Linked DNA regions of Homo sapiens: region 1 is linked to region 2. Evidence: fine-mapped expression QTL. A gene starts in region 2. The other region holds a variant in brackets. All regions are shown on one strand. Distances are between the middles of the regions.

What was found. PIP is the estimated chance that this variant, and not a neighbour inherited with it, causes the effect. A credible set is the group of variants that fine-mapping cannot tell apart.
Region 1: its variant is the best candidate, but not a certain one, in a credible set for the expression of TMEM106A in transverse colon (GTEx, PIP 0.71).

Annotation. Positions count from the first base shown.
Region 1 is chr17:42,982,809-42,988,180 of GRCh38, forward strand. RUNDC1 (RUN domain containing 1) reads left to right here. Exons shown (of 5, transcript NM_173079.5): 2 at 4,448-4,606. Among named protein-coding and RNA genes, the nearest start is that of RUNDC1, 4.9 kb to the left of the region's middle. The variant T/C (reference allele first, on the strand shown) is at 2,311.
Region 2 is chr17:43,209,969-43,215,288 of GRCh38, forward strand. TMEM106A (transmembrane protein 106A) reads left to right here and starts at 1,907. Exons shown (of 9, transcript NM_145041.4): 1 at 1,907-1,954; 2 at 2,259-2,426; 3 at 3,053-3,284; 4 at 3,860-3,923. The coding sequence starts at 3,074. It overlaps NBR1 (NBR1 autophagy cargo receptor), which reads left to right. Exons shown (of 21, transcript NM_005899.5): 21 at 1-1,720. The coding sequence ends at 106.

The DNA of each region.
Region 1 (5,372 bases), 230 kb before region 2:
ACTAAAAATACAAAAAAAAAAAAAAAAAACTAGCCAGACATGGTGGCACATTCCTGTAATCCCAGCTACTCGGGAGGCTGAGGCAGGAGAATCGCTTGAACCTGGGAGGCAGAGGTTGCGGTGAGCCAAGATCGTGCCATCGCACCCCAGCCTGGGGCAACAAGAGTGAAACTCTGTCTCAAAAAAAAACACACAAAAAATTAAAAACTGAAAAAAAAAAAAAGACTGTGTGCAGTGGCTCATGACTGTAATCCCAACACTTGGGGAGGCGAAGGCTGGAGGAGGATCACTTGAGCCCAGGAGTTGGAGGCTGCAGAGAGCTATGATCATACCGCTGCACTCCAGCCTGAGTAACAGAGCAAGACCCTGTCTCAAAAAAAAAAGGCAAAAGAAACATTGTACCACCTTAAAAAAAAAAAAAAAAAGTAGTGCTCAATCCACCTACAAGTTGTAATCTTGTATTTATACATTGAATACATTGACAGGTGAACAGGTAGGACCAGAGTAGGGAATATCATTGAACTGAATGATTTACTTCTTACCACTTACCTTTTTTTTTCTTTTTCCTTTTTTTTTTTTTTTTTTTTGAGACAGAGTCTCACTCTGTTGCCAGGCTAGAGTGCACTGGCATGATCAGGACTCACTGCAGCCTTGACTCCCAGGCTCAGTAGATCCTCCTACCTCAGCCTCTCGAGTAACTGGGACCACAGGCGAGCATCACCATGCTCAGCTAGTTTTTGTATTTGTAGAGATGAGGTTTCACCATATTGCCCAGGCTGGTCTTGAACTCCTGGGCTCAAGCAAGCCACCCACCTTGGCCACCCAAAGTGCTGGATTACAGGCATGAACCACTGTACCCCGCCAATTTTTTTTTTTTTCTTGAGACAGAGTCTCACTCTGTCGCCCAGGCTGGAATGCAGTGGCACCATCTTGGCTCACAGCAACCTCCGCCTCCTGGGTTCAAGCGATTCTCCTGCCTCAGCTTCCCAAGTAGCTGGGACTACAGGTGCCCGTCACCACGCCTGGCTAATTTTTGTATTTTTAGTAGAGATGGGGTTTTGCCATGTCGGCCAGGCTGGTCTCGAACTCCTGGCCTCGAACGCCTGACCTCATAATCTGTCCGACTCGGCCTCCCAAAGTGCTGGGATTATAGGTGTGAGCCACCGTGCCCGGCCCTAAATTTTTATTTTCCACTCTGTTGCCCAGGCTGGTGTGCAGCAGCATGATCACAACTCACTGCATCCTCAACCTCCTGGGCTCAATCCATCCTCCCAGCTCAGCCTCCCAAGTAGCTGGGACCACAGGCGCACACTACCATGACTAGCTAATTAAAAAATATATTTTTTCTGTAGAGGTGGGGCTCTCCCTATGTTGCTCAGCTGGTCTCTGACTCCTGGGCTCAAGCCACCCTCCCACCTTAGCCTCCCTAAGTGCTGGGATTACAGGCATGAGCCACTGCACCTGGCCCCCAGTTTTTTTTTTTTTTTTTTGAGACAGAGTCTGGCCCTGTCACCCAGGCTGGAGTGCAGTAGCATGATCTCAGCTCACTGCAACCTCCACCTCCTAGGTTCAAGCTGTTCTGCTGCCTCAGCCTCCCTAGTAGCTGGGACTGCAGGCATGTGCCACTATCCCCGGCTAAATTTTGTATTTTGAGTAGAGACAGGGTTTTGCCATGTTGGCCAGGCTGGTCTCGAACTCCTGACCTCAAGTGATCCACCCACCTCAACCCCAAATATTTTAAACCAATATTTTCTCTTATCTTACTTCATACTGGAAATGATTTATGTTATTTCCTGCTTTGCACCAGAGCTCATTGTTCTCTCTTGTTTGCCCACACTCCAGCAAATAGCATATCGTAGCTACCATGGCAAGTGACAGAGTTCAACAGACTTGGTCATGAAAATGGAATCAAAATTTATGGCTGATTTCTTTCTTCCCTGACATAAAGTTGGGTAACAGTGAGAACAAAAACAAAAGACTTTTCCACAGTTCTTTCTCCTTAGGCTGGTTAGACAACTTTCTCCACTCAGAGTTCATTATTTGGAATTTGTCATTCTTTTCTTTTTCTTTTTCTTTCTTTCTTTTTTTTTTTTTTTTTTTTTTTGGACACAGAGTCTTGCTGTGACACCCAGGCTGGAGTGCAATGCTGCGGTCTTGGCTCACTCCAACCTCCGCCTCCTGGGTTCAAGCCATTCTCCTGCCTCAGCCTCCCAAGTAGCTAGGATTACAGGCACGTGCCACCACACTGGGCTAGTTTTTGTAGAGACGGGGTTCCACCATGTTGGCCAGGCTGGTCTCGAACTCCTGACC[T/C]CAGGTGATCTGCCTGCTTTGGCCTCCCAAAGTGCTGGGATTACAGGCATGAGCCACTGCGTTCGGCCATACTTTCCTTAATTCAGTTCAGTAACATACAACAAATGCATGTTGAGAACTTATCTTGTGCCAGACACTGTGCCTGGCATTTGTGGTTCAAAGTCAAAACCTTTGTCCTTAAGGAGTTCATAGACTAGAAGAGACAGAATCCTAAACAAATAATGTGATATGAGCTAGACTAGAAGTGTGAACAACCTCTAGAGGAAATGTTTAGTTATGCCTGGGGAAATCAGGAAGCCTCTTAAAGGAGAACTAGGCCTTCACCAAATGGGGAAGTGGGATAGGGTTCTAACAGTATGCAACTGCGCTCTGAAAGGATTACAGAGGGACTGCCCTGAGAAAAGGCTTGCTTTCATGTTGAGCAAAGTTAAAGCAAGAGGATTGCATTTTAAATACTTAAACAAAAAGTTAATTTGTTGTTTTCTTTTTTTTTTTTTTTTCATTTCTTCTCTCTCATTACTTACTTCTTCAGGGCTTGGTAAGTACCGTTTTAAGGTTAAATGTAATACGCTGTAGACTTCTAGTTTAAGACGCAGCCTTGCCCCTACAAATGATTTGCTGGTTTTGCTTTTTGTTTTTGAGACTCAAGAAAGACAAGGAAGAACCAGTGTTTGAGAATACGTTGACAAGACTTTACCACCCTGAAGCATTTTTATTAGTTGAAATGCAGAAACTACTGGTGGCCAACAGTTGAAAAAGGAGTCACTAGTCAGCAAAACTTACAGATACTTTTTTTTAAAAACGTTGTTACCTTCACATCCCCATTATGTGGCTTTTGGTTTTTTTTCACTGGCCTAGGCACTTGCCTTTTACTCTTTTGTTTTTGGTTTTGGTTTTTTGAGACAGAGTCTTGCCCTATTGCCCAGGCTGGAGTGCAGTGGTGAAAACAAAGCTCAATGCAGCCTCAACCTCCTAGACTCAAGCCATCATCTTGTCCCAGCCTCTTGTGTGACTGGGACCACCATGCCACCACGCCTGGCTAATTTTTTTTTTCTTTGAGACAGGGTCTTGTGAAGCCTTGACCTCTTGTGCTTAAGCAATCCTCCCGCCTCGGCCACTCAAGTAGCTGGGACTACAGGCATGCACCACCATGCCCAGCTAATTTTTAAAAATTTTTTTGTGGAGATGAAGTCTCACTGTGTTGCCCAGGGTGGTCTCGAACTCCTGGGCTCAAGTGATTCTTTTGCCTTGGCCTCCCAGAGTGCTGCAGTTACAGGCGTGAGACACCACTCCTGGTGCGTTTGATTCTTTTGATTTTTCAGAAGTGGTCTATCGTACATCAAAGGGACTTTGGTGAACCTTAGGAAAGCTGGTTATGAGTTTTTTTCTTTTTTTTTGAGACGGAGTCTCGCTCTGTCACCAAGGCTGGAGTGCAGTGGCGCGATCTCTGCTCACTGCAAGCTCCGCCTCCCGGGTTCACGCCATCCTCCTGCTTCAGCCTCCCAAGTAGCTGGGACTACAGGCGCCCGCCACCACACCCGGCTAATTTTTTTTTTGTATTTTTAGTAGAGACGGGGTTTTACTGTGTTAGCCAGGATGGTCAATCTCCTGACCTCGTGATCCACCCGCCTCGGCCTCCCAAAGTGCTGGGATTACAGGCGTGAGCTACCGGGCCCGGCCAGCTGGTTATGAGTTTTAAAGCCTCTCTCCACACCCTTACCCCAGATTCTTTTGCAAAATTTGGCTGCACAGAGTAATCAGGAGTTGTGTTATGGTAACTGGCTGTGGAGAATGGCATGTCTTAATTCCTGGGAGGCTATCTTGGCTGAGATAGATTGTCTCTACCCTAACTAGACCTTTGGGGGAAAAAAGGCAGTCTTAACAAAAAGCCTCATTGTATTAATATCCTATTTCCAATGAGGGACAGATAGTTTCTTAAAGAAAACACCCATTTGACAAATTGCCTAGGATGAAATAATTATTCTTACTTTTGAATCTATCGTATGAATTGTGTATTTCATTTGGATTATTGGAAACATCTTATATTTTATTGGTCATTACTGGCTCGAGCAGATTCTTAATGTGCCCTGAGTTTCCCTTTGCCTGCATAATAGACCCAATTATTTTCTTGCCTTAGAGTGAGCAGGAAAAGCAAGAGCGTCTGGAAACCCAAAGGGAGAAGCAGAAAGAACTGATACTGCAGCTCAAGACCCAGCTAGATGACCTGGAAACGTTTGCCTATCAAGAGGGCAGTTATGACTCGCTGCCACAGTCCGTGGTGTTGGAAAGACAGCGGGTGAGCAGACCCCAGAGGAACCTCCACCACTGCCCGAGGTTAACTTGTCCCTTCCAGCATTCACAGGGCATCCTCTCTCAGCTCAGTTCTCCTTTGGCCTTACTGAGAATCCCTCTGCTGGCCCAAATCAAAGGGAAATTTTACTGCTATGAGGAACCTTTCTTTGCTCACACATGGAAAACACAGATTCCAAAGTTTTGTAATACGATAATTGAGCTATTTCTTTTTGGTGATTGTAATTAATAATAGAAATAAGAATATAACAATAATTTCTTCATTTGATCACTTAAAAAATTCTACTTGGGCCCATCATACAATGTAATCTAGCTTTTTTGTTTTGTTTTATTTTGTTTTTGAGGTGGAGTTTTGCTCTTGTTGCCCAGGCTGGAGTGCAATGGCACAATCTCAGCTCAACACAGCCTCTGCCTCCTGGGTTCAAGCAATTCTCCTGCCTCAGCCTCCCAAGTAACTGGGATTATAGGCAGGCGCCACCATGCTGGGCTAATTTTGTATTTTCAGGAGAGATGGGGTTTCTCCATGTTGGTCAGGCTGGTCTCGAACTCCCAACCTCAGGTGATCTGCCCACCTTGGCCTCCCAAAGTGCTGGGATTACAGGCGTGAGCCACCGCACCTGGCCGTAATCTAGCTTTTTCCTACTACTCACTACCTTTTGATAAACATGCCAGGAATCCAGACTGACTTTAATACTGTATTTATTTAGGTAAGACCTGGGTAGACAGGTAAATCTCTTGGTAGAGATACAGTT
Region 2 (5,320 bases):
GCAGCTGAACCTACGGCTGCTGAAGAAACACAATTACAATATCCTGCAGGTTGTGACAGAACTTCTTCAGTTAAACAACAACGACTGGTACAGCCAACGCTATTGAGGAGTGACCTTGTATTAAATAACTGCCTGCTGCTCAGAGATGATCTTTATTCTGTCATTGGGGTATGGGATAGAAGCCCTTGCTTATTTTTAATCTGATGAATCTGTATAGAGCCCATCGTTGAGTTACCAAGACAATACCTGCTACAGTATTTTGGGGAGCAAACTAAAGACCAGAACTTAAATTTTCACTTTAGACATTGGATGAATAGTATGAAGACAGTTTTTCAGTTGATTTGGATAAAACTATTTTAGTGCATTGACAAGTGTAACTTCAACTTCATATAGAACCATTTTTCTTTCTGCTTTTATTGAAACTGAGTATTTTTCTTTGGCTAATGTGGATTTTTTATGGGGATATCTGTTAATTTTCAGGTTTTGAAAGACATTAACCTCGGAAGTTGTTTTTAAGAATTATTCTCATAATTCTTATTCTCATAATTTCTGTAATCCACCTCAAGCTTCATAGTTATTTGGCATTGAAATAACACCCAGAGCATGATAGAAATGTTGTTACTCTTCCTCTCTCAAGGAGAAAGTAATTTTCCTGCAATACTTAATAATTGGCACCGTTGCTTTCTAAAGACTCCATGGTGCATTCAAGAGTATCCAACTTCAAGGGAATCTCCGCATTTCAATGAAAGGAGGAAGAGTGTGCTGATAAACCTACCAGCACCTATTGAGCAATGTCTATTATAGTAATTTTGCATACATTTTTATTTAAGGGAAAAAATATAGGTATTGTGAAATATTTTGCTAATCTTATAGAAAAGGAAAAAATCCCGTTATTTAAAGGGAAAAGTAAATTTAACAGTTGCCTTTTTTCTTAATGTCAGGGCAGATCTTATTTTACAGTACAGTGGGGGAAATAGAAACATGTGAAAGGCAAAAGGCAGGCTCCTAAATTAATGTCAGTGAAGTTCAGGGTGGGCAAATGAGTGTGTGTGAGGTATAGGAAATGCTGATGACTTCTTTAATGCTTGAAGTCCGTTCACAGGTATCTAGCCCTAGAATGCCTAGAACAGGAAGAGGCAGCTGGTGTTCTGCAAAACTTGGACAGGGGCAAAGTTGCTGAAAAAGTTTTGGTTTAACCCGAAGATAAGTGGAAAAGAGCTTGTCCATGAACCCAGGTTCTCACTCTGTTTACAGAAGTGTGTTGAGTACAGTTGGTGAAGGAAGAGGTAACAAAAAATGCTAAATATTTTATCCATGAAAATGACTTCCAGAAAAGGAAGAATATGAACCCCAGACCGAAGGGGAAAAGATAGTTAATAGTATTATCTAACCTGGTTGGTATTTGTAATGAATGGTGATTTTAATTAGTCATTAGCCATAATGATGTTTATTTACAGTATAACTCCTGAATGCTACTTAAATAAACCAGGATTCAAACTGCAAGCCAGCCAGGCCGTTCATTATTTAAAACGTTTTAATCGGGGCTTCCGGGTAGAAGGTGGAGCGGCAGGGTGTAATTGGGTTGATGGGTGGGACCTGTCTTGACCATCGGAGTTTTATAATCGAGGGCCAGGAGGGCCCGGGTTGCTCTCCTGGTTATGTATGTACTTGTACATAACCACCTAAAGAATGGTGAAATAAATGTTCTTGGAAATTCCTACCCGGACTGGCTAGTCCTTGCGGAAGCAGCGTCCGGGCCCTCGGGTAACGTTTGAAGAGCTGGCAGCGTCTCAGGCTGCTGCGTGGCGAAGGGGCGGACCGGGGGACGGGGGGGTGGGCCCTTAGGGGCTGGGGCGGGACTTCCCTGGGCACTGAGTCAAAGCTTGAGGGGAGTGTTCGCTCCCGCATTTTCGATTCCACTCTCTTCCGTTTCTGTCGCTGCAGTCGTCCGCGGGTAAGGCCCTCCCTAGACCCTTTATACCTACTTTACCTTTCGGAGGTCAAGACACCTCCTGTTGCCGCCTCCTCGCCCAACACACAGGCGCCCCCCGCACGGGTACCAAGCTTGACTAACGGCCTCTAGGGGTGTGTGGTGGGACTTGAAATCCTCCCTTAATGAAGTCACACCTTCTCCGTCCGCTTCCACCCGGTCGGCCCATGGCAGAGCCCCCATGTAGCCCAGGAATCGGCTTGGCCCTTCGGGGAGGTCAGCGTCCTTACTATCCCCACTCTCCAGTGCGGCACATTCGTTCCCCTAGGACTCCGGCCGGTTGCCGGCCCCAGGCGGTGCTTCTCCCCACCACCGCCCAGCTCAGCTCAGCCCAGCCCAGCCCACTCTGCCCTTAGAGGCCCTTCTCCCCAAAGACGCACTCCAGAAGTCTCGCCCTCGTGCGGCTGAGGAGCCTGGGATCCCAGACCTGAACAAGGTGAGCATCCCTATATTTTAGCCCAGAAAGATCTGTGTGGCTCACTTGCCGGCCTCGTTCTGTCACACAGAGTCCAGATTTAGCCTTGAGTTTTCCTAGTGAAAGACAGACCCTGGTATCACTATGACCCTCCTCAGGCTTTCTTACCCCGCCTCAGAAAGCAGTGAGGTGTCTGCTTTCTCCCAGGGCTTCTTTAGATAGGGGTCTTAACCACACCTGTGACCAGTCTGGCCTCCTCTCTCCTTGATTCAAAGAATCTCTTTTCTGCCCTATCCAACTTCCTTCCCTTAAACTGAATGACAGCTCAGCAACTTTTCCAGAGAAAAATTAAATGCTCTGACAATCACTTATGGAAGTTCCTTAAAGTGAAGTAACTTCTGCTTTTCTTTTGTTTTCCCTTTTGTAGGCAGATTGGTCTCTTTTAAAATAATGAAAGGAGTCGAAATGCATTGAGACTTCTGAGAGTCCCATGTGACCACCCAGTTTTTCACATCCTATCTTCCTTAGGCTTGAGCTTGCTTAAACTGTGGTGAAGCTCCTTGCCAGTCTTGAGAACTTCAAACCAAAATTACATCTGGCGTCAGTGCTAACAAGCTTAGCACTGAACTTTGGTCTTTTCTCATTAGTGAAACCCCCGCCCCTGAAGAATGGGTAAGACGTTTTCCCAGCTGGGCTCTTGGCGGGAGGATGAGAACAAGTCAATCCTGTCCTCCAAACCAGCCATTGGCAGCAAGGCTGTCAACTACTCCAGCACCGGTAGCAGCAAGTCTTTTTGTTCCTGTGTGCCTTGTGAAGGAACTGCTGATGCCAGCTTCGTGACTTGTCCCACCTGCCAGGGCAGTGGCAAGATTCCCCAAGGTGAGTGGCCCAAGGCTCTGGAAATAGCCTGGAATCCAGGGAAAGTTCTTAGCCTGTTGGCCTGGGGCAGCCCCTCTGAGTCTCCTTGGATGGGGTTAGATCTGCTCCCAGCTCTTGACCTCCCAGTCTCAGGCTGGCCAGGGAGATACTTAACTATCCTTGGGTTCCCTGCAAAAACCTGCCCTCCTTCCCTGGTTGTATTCTCCAGCCCCTTGTGGGAAAGAAGGATTCTAGCCACTGTGCTTCTGAGCAACACTGTGTGTCCTAGGATTCATTCAGTTCAGGAAGTTACAAATGAACTTTCCAAAGATGCTGGGCATCTCTGATTTGCTGGTGACTTTCAGAGATTCTTCATACCTATTAGTGGAAATCTCACTTCCATTCTAGAGATGGCAAAGCTGAGCTGCCAACTTTGGTAGCAGAGTCCAGTGCTTCCAGTCCTGCTCTGGGGCAGATGTGGCATGTTTCTAACATTGCTCTATGGTGTGGGTGGAGGCGTGCTTCTGGGAAGCTGGCACAGTAAATATTTGTCACAGTTGCATCTTGGCCCTCCCTCTCACCTTCTCTCTCTCTAGAGCTGGAGAAGCAGTTGGTGGCTCTCATTCCCTATGGGGACCAGAGGCTGAAGCCCAAGCACACGTAAGCCCCCCTTCCTCCCCTAGCTTCACAAGCCATTGCCCCTGGGGGCTGCTCCCTTTGTCTCCCCTGTTTTGATCTCCCTTAATTTCTTCCTATTAGTTCTTCCATAGAAAGCCTGAGCCTCAGAGGTACCAGCTCCTTACGTCCAAGGATTTTTTCCTGATTTAGAAGCTCCTGGACCGGGTGTGGTGGCTCATGCCTGTAATCCCAGCACTTTGGGAGGCCAAGGCAGGCAGATTACTTGAGCTCAGGAGTTCAAGACCAGCCTGGGCAACATGGTGAAACCCCATCTCTATCAAAAAAAAAAAAAAAAAGAAAAAAAAAAAGAAAAGAAAGAAAGAAAGAAAAAAGCAGCAGCTGTGGGCACAGCAGATGTCACTTGAGGCCACCTGGTGGGCTTCCTTAAGCATCACTGCTTCCAGAAAGCATGGCCCCCTCTCCAAGACAGGAAGGATCTGGTAGCTCTGCAAGTCCTCCCAGGAAGGAGGGAACAAGCATGTGGCCCTGGCTGCAATTGATTTGAAAATGTTATTTTTCTTAAGCACCTCCCTTGCTGAGGCAGTTCAGATTTGCTTGTTTTTCTTCTAGTAGAGATGAAAAACCTATTGTCCGCTGTTCTGGGATACTTCAGAACCTCAGGCAGACCTGGGGCCTACTGTGTTTGTGATCTGAGTCCATCTGACATGGAGCTCCCTCAACCTCCTCCCAAGGTCCTGGTGTCAACCTGGGAGTCACCACCAAGCCGAACCCTCTCCGCCACCCCACTATACCAGAATTAGAAATCAGGCTGGGCGTGGTGGTTTATGCCTGTAATCCCAGCACTTTGGGGAGGCCAAGACAGGCGGATCACCTGAGGTTAGGAGTTCAAGACCAGCCTGGCCAACATGGCGAAACCCTGTCTCTACTAAAAATAGAAAAATTATCTGGGCGTGGTGGCAGACACCAGTAATCCTAGCTACTTGGGAGGCTGAGGCAGGAGAATTGTTTGAACCCAGGAGGTGGAGGCTTCAGTGAGCCAAGATCATGCCACTGCACTCCAGCCTGAGCAACAGAGCGAGGCCTCATCTGAAAAAAAAAAAAAAACAAAAAAAAACCCTGTAATCCCAGCACTTTGGGAGGCCAAGGCGGGCAGATCACGAGGTCAGGAGTTTGAGACCAGCCTGACCAACATGGCAAAACCGCCTCTACTAAAAATACAAAAATTAGCCGGGCATAGTGGCAGGCACCTGTAATCCCAGCTACTCAGGAGGCTGAGGCAGGAGAATGGCGTGAACCCGGGAGGTGGAGGTTGCAGTGAGCCGAGATCGTGCCACTGCACTCCAGCTTGGGCGACACAGCAAGACTCCATCTCAAAAAAAAGAAAAAAAAAAGAAATTAGCAGTGCACATCATAAGATA